Linked DNA regions of Homo sapiens. The protein of the gene in region 2 interacts with the protein of the main gene of each other region in a pairwise test. Each region holds a gene or a part of one and is shown on either strand. Other genes may lie near its edges.

Region 1 (3,747 bases), on a different chromosome or scaffold from region 2:
TTTGTGATCCTCCCGCCTCGGCCTCCCAGTGTGCTGGGATTACAGGCGTGAGCCACTGCGCCCGGCCTTCCCCAGCTAATTTTAATGTGTTCCTAGGGTTGAGAACCATGGCCCTTGAAACAAATTATAACTCATGTTTTTGAAAATAGCCAGTTGTCTCCTTGCCACATGTGAGTTAAACTAGAACAGAGGTGCTTGACAACTAAGGGTTTTCAGAATAAATAGTGCCTTTCTAAGGGTACGTTACTACTGTGCAGCTGTGAAAATGAAAGAGGCAGCTATGTGTATACTATTAGAGTAGCATGCAAATTATAGAAAGTGAGGGCCGGGCGCAGTGGCTCACACCTGTAATCCCAGCACTTTGGGAGCCTGAGGTGGACGATCACTTGAGGCCAGGAGTTCAAGACCACCCCAGCCAACACAGCAAAATCCAGTCTCTGGTAAAAGTACAAAAATTAGCCAGGCGTGGTGGGGCGCGCCTGTAATCCCAGCTACTCAGGAGGCTAAGGCACGAGAAGCACTGGAACCCAAGAGGCGGAGGTTGCAGTGAGCCTCCCTCTTTTTTTTGGTCTCAAAAAAAAAAAAAGAAAGAAAGTGAGGATAGCTGCATGCTGAATACCGGGGGGAAAAAAAAGAGTGTGGAAAACAAGTTGCAGAACCGTCTAGTATATTATTACTTTGGGGAAGCTGGGATGGGATTTTTGTGTGTATATATATATATATATATATATATATATATATATATATACACATATATTTAAATAATATTTATTTATTTTTTTGAGACAGAGTCTCACTCTATCCCCTAGGCTGGAGTGCAGTGGCACAATCTCGGCTCACTGCAACCTCCACCTCCCGGGTTCAAGCCATTCTCATGCTTCAGCTTCCCTCAAGTAGCTGGGATTACAGGCGCCTGCCACCACGCCTGACTAATTTTTGTATTTCTAGTACAGACAGGGTTTTGCCATGTTGACCAGGCTGGTCTCAAACTCCTGACCTCAGGTGATCTGCCGGCTTCGGCCTCCCAAAGTGCTGGGATTACAGGCGTGAGCCACCACGCCCAGCTGTATATATCCATATTTTTATTTAATATTTTAGTATTTAATTTCTTAATAAGTTTTTTTGGGGGTGGTGGAGGAGACGGTGTCTCACTCTGTCGCCCAGGCTGGAGTGCAGCAGTGCGATCTTGGCTTACTGCAACCTCTGCCTCCCGGGTTCAAGTGATTATCTTGCCTCAGTAGATGGGATTACAGGTGCTTGCCACCACACCTGGCTAATTTTTGTATTTTTAGTAGGGACAGGGTTTCACCATGTTTGCCAGCTGGTCTCGAACTCCTGACCTCAAGTGATCCACCTGACTTGACCTCTCAAAGTACTGGGATTACAGGCATGAGCCACTGCGCTTGGCCAGGATGTATTACCTTTATAACAAAAAGTTTTTTTTTTTTTTTTGAGACGGAGTTTCGCTCTTATTGCCCAGGCTGGAGTGCAATGGCTCGATCTCGGCTCACCGCAACCTCCACCTACTGAGTTCAAGTGATTCTCCTGCCTGAGCCTCCCAAGTAGCTGGAATTACAGGCATGTGCCACTACGCCCAGCTAATTTTGTATTTTTAGTAGAGACGGGGTTTCTCCATGTTGGTCAGGCTGGTCTTGAACTCCCGACCTCAGGTGATCTGCCCGCCTCAGCCTCCCAAAGTGCTGGGGTTATAGGCGTGAGCCACTGTGCCCAGCCATAACAAAAAATTTTAAATGAAATAATTAAACTAAGGTGTGGGAGTAGTAACATGGAATTTCCATTTGAGGGGCAGACAGAGAGGAGTGGGCTTTTAAAAGTACAGTTCTGAGACCCTTGGAGTGGAGCTGACGACACACTCCTCAGGGTGTCAGTATTGCTTTTGTCCTATTTCTGGCAGAGGTATGAAGGTTATTGAAAACCGGGCCTTAAAAGATGAAGAAAAGATGGAACTCCAGGAAATCCAACTCAAAGAAGCTAAGCACATTGCAGAAGAGGCAGATAGGAAGTATGAAGAGGTAAGTGACCTTCTGTTAGTCCCTCTCGTATCGGCCTTTTACAAAGCATAATGCGGTAAATGGCTCCTTTGCTTCACTAAGCTATACTGGGATCTTTTCCTGTAGGTGGCTCGTAAGTTGGTGATCATTGAAGGAGACTTGGAACGCACAGAGGAACGAGCTGAGCTGGCAGAGTCGTGAGTATCTAGCTCCCCAAATCTTGTCATTACCAATTTATCCCTTCCCCTTTGGCTTGGGCACTAATATGAATAAATTAGCATTCCTTCAACCTTGTTAAACAGGGCCTAGGGAATGGGAGTCATCTATAGTGCTTTTTTAGGCCCAAGAATGGTTTTAGGCTTCCTTATTCTCCTGACTAGTGACAAGTGACAAAAGAGGCTTTCTTATTTTTTGTTGGTAGGGTTTACAAATTGAGAGCAAATAAGGACTAATACATGGTGAACAGTTAATTGGAAGATCCTACTGGGTCCTTCCACCTGGGGTGGAAGACATCAAAGTGGCTATCCTGATTTAAGATCTAGTGTCTGGCTGGGTGTGGTGGCTCAAACCTGTAGTCCCAGCTACTTAGTATGCCAAGGCAGGAAGGTTGCTTGAACCCAGGAGTTGGAGGCCAGCCTGGGCGTCATAGGGAGACCCTGTCCCTAAAACAAATAAATTTAAAAAAAAAATCTGGTGTCTGTTTTGGCCACTTTGCCAATCTGCTAGGGAACCTTAGGGCAAGGGTAGATATTAACTGCTCTCCCGTCGGTACCTTCTGGGCCTTGATTAACAAAGTCAGTGCTGAATGCATATGTATTTGTGCTTCCCTCTTACATTCCCGTCTGCCAGACATAACATATCATGACCATGGTGGTGTTCTCTTCCCATTTTTTGAATTTTTTTTTTTCGTTTTGCTGCTTGTTTTCTTGCTGTGTTCCTTTTTGACCTTTCTCCCTCCCCACAACCTGGCTTGTGCCATCCCCGTGACTATCACTAACAGCCGTTGCCGAGAGATGGATGAGCAGATTAGACTGATGGACCAGAACCTGAAGTGTCTGAGTGCTGCTGAAGAAAAGGTACTAACCATTAAGCCCACAGCAAGGTTATATATGTGGTGTGGTTTTGTTTTGTTTTGTTTTTGTTTTGCAGCTGCCTCCCCTCCACTTGATTTTGTTGAGTGCTGTCTCATCTCTTCATGGAATGCTCCATTCTTTTCCACTTACTTGGCATCTTTCATCTCTTCTTTCCTAGTTGCTTCACTGCCTCTCCACAGGGTCTCCTTCCTTTGGGTGATTTGGGGGACTGTTTGGGTTGGGCATTTGTTCCCACCTCCACCCCAGGTAGCAGTTATGACTTGTTCCTGGTAGTGGATTTCTCTCAAGTGCTTTATTAGTATTCAAACATTTTTGAGCCCAGGAAGGTCTAGCTCCTGACACGTTCTATGGTAGAGGGAGGAGGGTTGATGCTTGCTCAGGTTACTTGGGAACATCTCTTCCCCAGTATGCCTTCCAACTCTCTCTACATATAGGTTCAATTCACGTCTATGTGTCTCTCTCCCTTTTTTTATTCTCTTCCTTTTCCCTTTTCCTCTCCTGTGGTATTTAAAATATTCACAGTAAGTGTTCTGAGCTGGAGGAGGAGCTGAAGAATGTCACCAACAACCTCAAGTCTCTTGAGGCTCAGGCGGAGAAGGTAGGGGCTGGTTTGTGAAAGTGACAGGCTTTGGGGCCTGGGC
Region 2 (3,747 bases):
GGCCGTGGTTCGAGAGGGGAGGGCTGCCGCTCTGGTGAAGGCTGGGCGCTGCAGCCTGCTTCATCTGCCTGGGCACCCAAGGGGCCCAGTAGGTCTGAAAAGGGGCTGCTAAGGCCAGGCTCCAGCCTCCCAGCTGGGGAGGCCGGCAAAGTGGCAGGTGCTGAGGCCTCTTCCACAGGAAAGCAGGTGACATCAGCAGGTGGAGGTGGAGAAAATGGAGTTGTGGGCCCTCGGCCCTCGGAGCAGCTGGTAAGGGGGAAGAGAGAGACTGATGGGCTAGGCTGAGGGCTTGCCAGACCCCCCTCCACCAGCCCACCTGATCCACCCTTAACACCCAAACCCGATCCACAGGTTCTGTGTAGCAAGAACCCTGTCCAGCGAGACTGCTGGCAGACACCCCTAGGGCCCAGTCCCTCAGCCTAGGGGTGGGAGTGGGGCATCCCCCACCCATATCACATACCGCTTCCTGCATCGTCTGAGCCGGCTGACTTCAGCGGGGCCAGGTGGGTAACTGTGTCCTTTGGTCTTGGTTGTCCGGCGCAACTTGGAGAAAGACTCAAATATGGTGGGGACTGCCCCCTCCTTTAGCCTGTGATATCCACTGCGGGGAAAAGCAACCCAGATGAGCTGGAGAGCAAGTGCTGCCTCCCCAGGCCAATCTGCCCCCAGCAGCAGCGCCGTGGGATGCTGGAAGGCATCGTGCAAACAATACGTCTGGGGAACGCCAAGTTACAGCTACACCAATCGCTTCCCCGCAGGACTCCTCACAGTCCAGGTGTGTGGAAAGCCTGCATAAGCCGAGCTGGGCTGACCAGCCAGAAAGAATTCTTTGATTTGTGGACTTGCTGGCAAGACTGGGGCTCTGAAAGATACTCTCTGGAAAGGCTCCTGTTTTCCCCTTGTGTCACAGGCACAGTGATCCTGGGGGTGGGTTTCACTGTGCAGAGCTGGGAACAGGAAACAGCCCCCTTGGACGCAGGCTGCTCAAGGGACTTCCATGACCTGCAGCTGTCCCAGTCCGCCGGGAGCCCCACATCCTACCCCAGCGTCGGCCGGCAGGGAGGCCCACCTGATTCCCACCAGCTCAAAGCAGTCCTCCTCAAAGTGTTTGGAGCAGAAGTAGATGTACTCGGATGCCGGGTCCCACAGGCCCTGGCCGCTGGGGTCCAGCCGCTGGCAGTTGGCCAGCCACAAGCCTCGCCTCGGGTTGTCCTTCTTGGGAAGTCTGTGGAGCCACAAACCCGTGAGCACCAGGCTGTCCACAGCCCTGGGCTCATGCTGCCCAAGCACCCCAGAGGGGAAACGCAGACCCAACACGCGCCGCCACGAGACCTCCCTGCGACCCCGCCGGGTAAGCACCACCGCCCGGGCACAGACGAGGCAACGGAGGCCTCGAGAAGAAAAGCAGTTTCCTCAGCGTCATCTGGCAGGTAACAGAGTGGGGCGGGTCCAAGCCGGCTAGACTTCCCGTCCTCCCCTTCCCGACTGCATTCAGTCCCGCCGGGACCGTTCCGCTTCACCTCCCACCCACAGGTTCAAGCCTCCTCAGTATCTGAGAAAGGCGCGAAGCCTCTACGCAGTTGCGACCCGAGGCGAGCAACAACTAGCGCATGCGCACGTGAGCCCGCGGCGCACGCGCGCTGACCTGTGGAAGGAGATGCCGCGGTTGCGCGTCTCGCGCGTGTCCCGTGTGCAGCAGCCGGCGGCGGAGCAGTGACGCGGCATCTGGGAAAGAGGCGGGAGTTAAGTCGCAAGCGGCTCTCCGGGCATCCGGAGGAGCCTCGCGCCTCCAGCCGCCGCTCCTCCCCAAGGGGCTCTGGCCTGTCGGGTCCCCCCCGGCCCGTTGTCGCCCCAACCCCGTCCCAGCCGATTCTCTTGACTTCTGTCAGCGGCACTCACGCTCTGGCCATTGCTGCGCCGCCGAAGTCTCGCGAGGGGTAGCGCGCGCCGGAAGTTGGTACCATAGAGACTGGAGAGCCGGAGGTGCCCCCGCCACCGGGGCGGGGCGGGGCGAGGTCCTAGCTAGCTGGGTTAGTAAGCGGCGCGAGCGTGCGAGTTTCTGACGCGCCCGCGTCGTCCCAGCTCCCTGGACTACCAGTATTGTCGCCCACGTGGGCTTCTCTTTCGTCCGCTCAGGCCTCACTTTTCTCCGTAAACACCCCGGCACGATGGAGCGGCCCCAGCGTTCGGGAGCGGCCCGGGAGCGGAAAGCGGCAGTGTCCTGGGAGCCTCGAAAGCCGCAGGGGCGGCAGCTCGCCTCGGAATGACCTCTGACGGAAGAAATAAAACGGGGCCTGGGACGCTTGCACGAAAGAACCCGACAAAAACCAGAGCCCGCACTCACTCTCGTACTGGGGAGGTGGACTTCAGGGAGGGTTATCTGGAGGAGGAATCTCTCAAAGTACAACACAGGAGAAAGACAGTATCGCAATACAGAAATTTTATTTTTTATTTTATTATTATTTTCCTGAGACCGGAGTCTCGCTCTGTCGCCCAGGCTGGAGTGCAGTGGCGCGATCTCGGCTCACTGCAAACTCCGCCTCCCGGGTTCACGCCATTCGGCTGCCTCACCCTCCACAGTAGCTGGGACTACAAGCGCCCGCCACCACGCCCGGCTAATTTGCAATACGGAAATTTTAATAGGTAATTAGCTCTCCTAGCGTTATGGTGGGGAATACAGAGGGATGGTTGCCTGCCGCACCCTCCCCTCACTATTCTTCGCCTTCTTCAGCCTCAGCTTCCACGGAATCCATGCCCACATCTTCATAATCCTCCAGAGCTGCCAGATCCTCGCGGGCCTCGGAGAATTCCCCCACTGCCATGCCCTCCCCCACGTACCAGTGCACTAAGGCGCACTTGGCCGAACTTATGGTCCAGGCAGGCCCAGGCCTCCGTGATGGCCGTGGTGTTGCTCAGCATGCACACCGCCCGCTGCACTTTGGCCAGGTCTCCCACAGGGACCACCGTGGGGGGCTGGTAGTTAATGCCCACCTGTCAGAGATGGGCAGCATAGAATGAAGTTTATATTGGCCTCAGAAATGGGAGCTCATTAAAAATCAGAGCTGTGGACCAGTTCCAACACTGTGTTTTAAGAATTGCTTCTATATTTTTTGGCATTATCTGTTATCTATCGACAATTAATATCCTTTGACGACTTTTTTTTTTCTTTTCTTCTCCTTCTTCCTCCTTCTCCTCCTTCTTTGTTGTTGTTGTTGAGACAGGGTCTAGCTCTGTTGCCCAGGCTGGAGTGCAGTGGTGCAATCTCGGCTCACTGCAACCTTTGTCTCCCAGGTTCAAGCAATTCTCCTACCTCAGCGTCCTGAGTAGCTGGGATTATGGGCATGTAAGATGGAGCCCGGAAGACGGAGATTTCAGTGAGCTGAGATTTCGCCACTGCACTCCAGCCTGGGCTACAGAGCGAGACTCTGTCTCAGAAAAAAAAAAAAATTATTACCCATATTACCCATACAGTAAAACACATGAAAAAGAATGAGAACCCTGTCTTGGGATATAAATACATCCAAGGTATATTGTATACTTTGTAAAAAGAAAAGTGAGTTGAAGTCTATGTATTTATGTGTAAAAAAATCCATGTAATAACATACACAGGCTAGAACCTTGGGCAGCTAGGGTAGCATCATGCCGGAGGAGGACAAACGCCTGCTGAGGTGGTGACCCTGCCTTGCCCTGCCAAGCACGTAGCAGTTAGCACCAACTAGATACAGACACACTCCACAGGAGTTGGAA
Region 3 (3,747 bases), on a different chromosome or scaffold from region 2:
CAGAGTAGAAAACATGTATGGTAGAAGGCTGGGAAATAAGGTAGTCCTCCTGTTGCAGAAGTTTGTCTTAGCACTAACCCTGGATATAATGTCCAGATGGGTGAAAAACAGAAACAAACATTTCATTTAAAGTTGTGAGATTATTACTTGGCCACTTCAGTGATTTATGAGTCATCCTGGATGAAGTGCTTTCTTAAGCCTAAGTCAACCCTCGATGACTATTTTATTTTTTGAGATGGAGTTTCACTCTGTCGCCAGGCTGGAGTGCAGTGGCCTGATCTTGATTCACTACAACCTCCGCCTCCGGAGTTCAAGTGATTCTCCTGCCTCAGCCTGCCGAGTAGCTGGGACTATGGGCACATGCCACCACGCCCAGCTAATTTTTGTATTTTTGGTAGGGACGGGCTTTCACCATGTTGGCCAGGATGGTTTTGATCTGTTGACCTTGTGATCCGCCTGCCTTGGCCTCCCAAGGGGAGTAATCCCTTGGCCTGTAATCCTGGGATTACAGGCGTGAGCAACTGCACCCAGCCTATTTTTTAATAGTATTCTTGCATATATAATGTTAAAATAGAGGATGAAGAGTATCAGTAATTAGAAATATGTTTATGTATGCATTTCAATATTTTAAATTGCCTAGGTGTTTTTTTTTTTCCTTGGAAGTTTACATTTTCTTGGGCTTGATAGGTGCTTTGAAAGTACTTGCTGAATTTATTCAGTGGAAACCTGTGAAATTGGGAAGGGAGCTAAGTTGAGCCAGTTATCTGATGGACATTTAGGGACCCTGAGGACTAGAGAATAGTGCCTTATGTCATTGTGTGTGTGTCTCATAGTGCTTTGCATATTGCTGATACCCAGTAGACATTCGTTACTTGATTGGAGCTAGAGTTTTTGCCACTAAATTTTGCTTGGTTGCTTCTCATTTCAGACAGTGCCAGTGGCATATACTTTTCTTGTTTTTCAGCTGCTCCTGCTAAGGCCAAGCCGGCTGAAGCTCCTGCTGCTGCAGCCCCAAAAGCAGAACCTACAGCAGCGGCAGTTCCTCCCCCTGCAGCACCCATACCCACTCAGATGCCACCGGTGCCCTCGCCCTCACAGCCTCCTTCTGGCAAACCTGGTAGGCTTCCAACTCCCACATGTCATGTGGGAGAACATCTCGTCTAATATGTTCCTTCAAAGGGTAAACTCTAGACTGATGATGGTTCTGAACAGGCCAGGTTGGCTGCTTTGTAGAAAGAATTCTAGACTTTGTATCCAAAGGCCTGCTTTGCATCTCAGCTTTCTGTTACTAGCTGTGTGTCTTTAGGCTAGTCACTTAATTTATCTGAACAGATTGTTCATCTGTGAAGTTGGAGTGATACTAATATACCTCAGAATATCTTGAAGATTAAGTAACAGTACATATGAAAGCACTGGCACAAACTCAGCAGATGTTTCTTTCCTTGTCTGATGCAGCTTTATCCTCTTTTCATTTTCAGTGTCTGCAGTAAAACCCACTGTTGCCCCACCACTAGCTGAGCCAGGAGCTGGCAAAGGTCTGCGTTCAGAACATCGGGTAAGCCTCTGAGGACCACTTTCAGGAAAGAGGCAGGGGGCAGTGTTGAGATTAGTGGAGTATGGGTGTGGTGATGCCTACCTTTGAATGCCTGGCAGCTCATTCCCTCAACCTTGATAAAGGGAGTTTAGGATATAACTTCTTCATAGTCACATAACCATCAAATGATAGGACTAGAACCTGAGGTCTTCTGAACACTTGTTCAGTGGTTTTCCTACTATATTATGCTACCAGTGAAAGCCTTGGGTAAGTTAAATATTTGTAGGGGTGGTAGCTTAGTAACTCACCCCCGTCCTCCCACGATGTCACACGCTTCAGAGAGGTGGTTTAGTGAGCTCTATTCCTATACTTCTGGGATACTTAGCTGTAGCTAAGGGATAATACTCAGTAGCAATAGCTGTCAGGTGCAGACATAAAGCCTCAAGGAAGTATGGTCAGGATTGTGGTTCCTCTGCCTGAGAATACTTCCTAAAAATATGATAGCCTCGAAAGTTTGTTGCTCATGAGGTTCTGTTCCACAAATAGCTATTCTTATGCAAATCTTTATCAACAGAAAGTGCCCTTTTTCTTATGATTCTTATGTTGGCTAGACTACACTACACTACATTCTTTTATAAATGGGTTTTGGTTTTTAAATCACTGTTTCTGAGCCTTCATTCTTGGTCAAGCTTTAGGCACATCTGAGTGAGTAGTTTTGGCCTGTGTTTGCATGTTTTTGCTTGGAGGAGAAAGGGCCACCACAGGAAAGGGAAGCCTGGAGCTCGTGTACTTAGATACTGTAGTCCTTGGCCATCTACTCGTGGCAAGCCGTGTTCTTTCTGACTACACGGGGAATGCTTGACCCAGAGAGATCAGATTGTCAATGCTTGTTCCACTCTTACTTTCAGGAGAAAATGAACAGGATGCGGCAGCGCATTGCTCAGCGTCTGAAGGAGGCCCAGAATACATGTGCAATGCTGACAACTTTTAATGAGATTGACATGAGGTAGTGTCTCTAGTCCCTCTTATCCCCTAGGCCCCTTTTTCTTAGAGAACACGAACTTGCCCCACTCCTTATCTAGTGCTGATTCTAAAACTAACTTGTCAGGGAAGAGGTATTTGTTTATTGTTTTTTGTTTGTTTGTTTTTGTTTTTGTTTTTTGAGATGGAGTCTCGCTGTCTCCCAGGCTGGAGTGCAGTGGCATGATCTCGGCTCACTGCAAGCTCCGCCTCCCGGGTTCACGCCATTCTCCTGCCTCAGCCTCCAGAGTAGCTGGGAATACAGGCGCCCCCCACCACGCCTGGCTAATTTTTTGTATTTTTTTAGTGGAGACGGGGTTTCACCGTGTTAGCCAGGATGGTCTCGATCTCCTGACCTCGTGATCTGCCCTTCTCGGCCTCCCAAAGTGCTGGGATTACAGGCGTGAGCCACCGCGCCTGGCCTGTTTATTGTTAACTTTCACAGAGTGAGCCGCTGGCTTCTTCTCTAATTGGCTTTCCTAATACTATGCCTGCCTCCTCCATGACCTTAACCTTAGCCTTGGCTAGGTGTAGTGGCTCACACCTGTAATCCTGGCACTTTGGGAGGCCGAGGCAGGCGGATTGCTTGAGTCCAGGAGTTCAAGACCAGCTGGGTAACAAGGCGAAACCCCACCTCTACAAAAAATACAAAAATTAGCCAGGTGTGGTGGTGCACATCTGTAGCCCCAGCTACTTGGGGGGCTGAGATGGGAGGATTGTTTGACCCCGTCACTTACATATTTTCCTAAGTGATTCAGAATCGAGTGGATGAAAAGGCAAAGATAGGCTGGGCTTGTCTTTCATTTTACCCAGCTCTGACAGTGAAATGGAAAACAAGTTGTGTTTTTAAATAACCTTAGAATGTTAACCAAAGGTACTAATTCACTAGGTATGCCCATTTCTGTAGTGAGCTAATTGTTGACTTACCTGTTTTCTTCAAGATTTCAATGTGTTCAAGTATCAGCACTGTCAGGAAGAGAAATTTGACAAACGTGTTTTGAGTGCGTACTGTATACAGAGTACTGTACTGTGGAATTCAGTGGGGATAGACGCTGGGCACCATGGCTCGTGCCTATAATCCCAGAGCTTTGGGAGGGTGAGGAAGGAGGATCGCTTGAGCTTAGGAGTTGGAAACCAGCCTGGGCAACATAGCAAGACTGTCTCTACATAAAATTTAAAAATTAGCCAAGTGA

Evidence for each region.
Region 1: the proteins of THAP7 (region 2) and TPM3 interact in binary tests that used the Homo sapiens proteins (3 or more experiments, as listed by UniProt).
Region 3: the proteins of THAP7 (region 2) and DLST interact in binary tests that used the Homo sapiens proteins (3 or more experiments, as listed by UniProt).

Annotation. Positions count from the first base shown.
Region 1 is NC_000001.11:154,171,370-154,175,116, reverse strand, and holds part of TPM3 (tropomyosin alpha-3 chain), read left to right. Parts: intron 1-1,915; coding exon 1,916-2,033; intron 2,034-2,138; coding exon 2,139-2,209; intron 2,210-3,012; coding exon of another isoform or gene 3,013-3,088; intron 3,089-3,628; coding exon 3,629-3,704; intron 3,705-3,747. UniProt on the Homo sapiens protein: Binds to actin filaments in muscle and non-muscle cells. Plays a central role, in association with the troponin complex, in the calcium dependent regulation of vertebrate striated muscle contraction.
Region 2 is NC_000022.11:21,000,187-21,003,933, forward strand, and holds the start of THAP7 (THAP domain-containing protein 7), read right to left. Parts: upstream 1,933-3,747; 5' UTR 1,726-1,932; coding exon 1,646-1,725; intron 1,226-1,645; coding exon 1,070-1,225; intron 602-1,069; coding exon 461-601; intron 247-460; coding exon 1-246. UniProt on the Homo sapiens protein: Chromatin-associated, histone tail-binding protein that represses transcription via recruitment of HDAC3 and nuclear hormone receptor corepressors.
Region 3 is NC_000014.9:74,891,870-74,895,616, forward strand, and holds part of DLST (dihydrolipoyllysine-residue succinyltransferase component of 2-oxoglutarate dehydrogenase complex, mitochondrial isoform 1 precursor), read left to right. Parts: exon of another isoform or gene 1-189; intron 190-964; coding exon 965-1,117; intron 1,118-1,478; coding exon 1,479-1,555; intron 1,556-2,442; coding exon 2,443-2,540; intron 2,541-3,747. UniProt on the Homo sapiens protein: Dihydrolipoamide succinyltransferase (E2) component of the 2-oxoglutarate dehydrogenase complex. The 2-oxoglutarate dehydrogenase complex catalyzes the overall conversion of 2-oxoglutarate to succinyl-CoA and CO(2).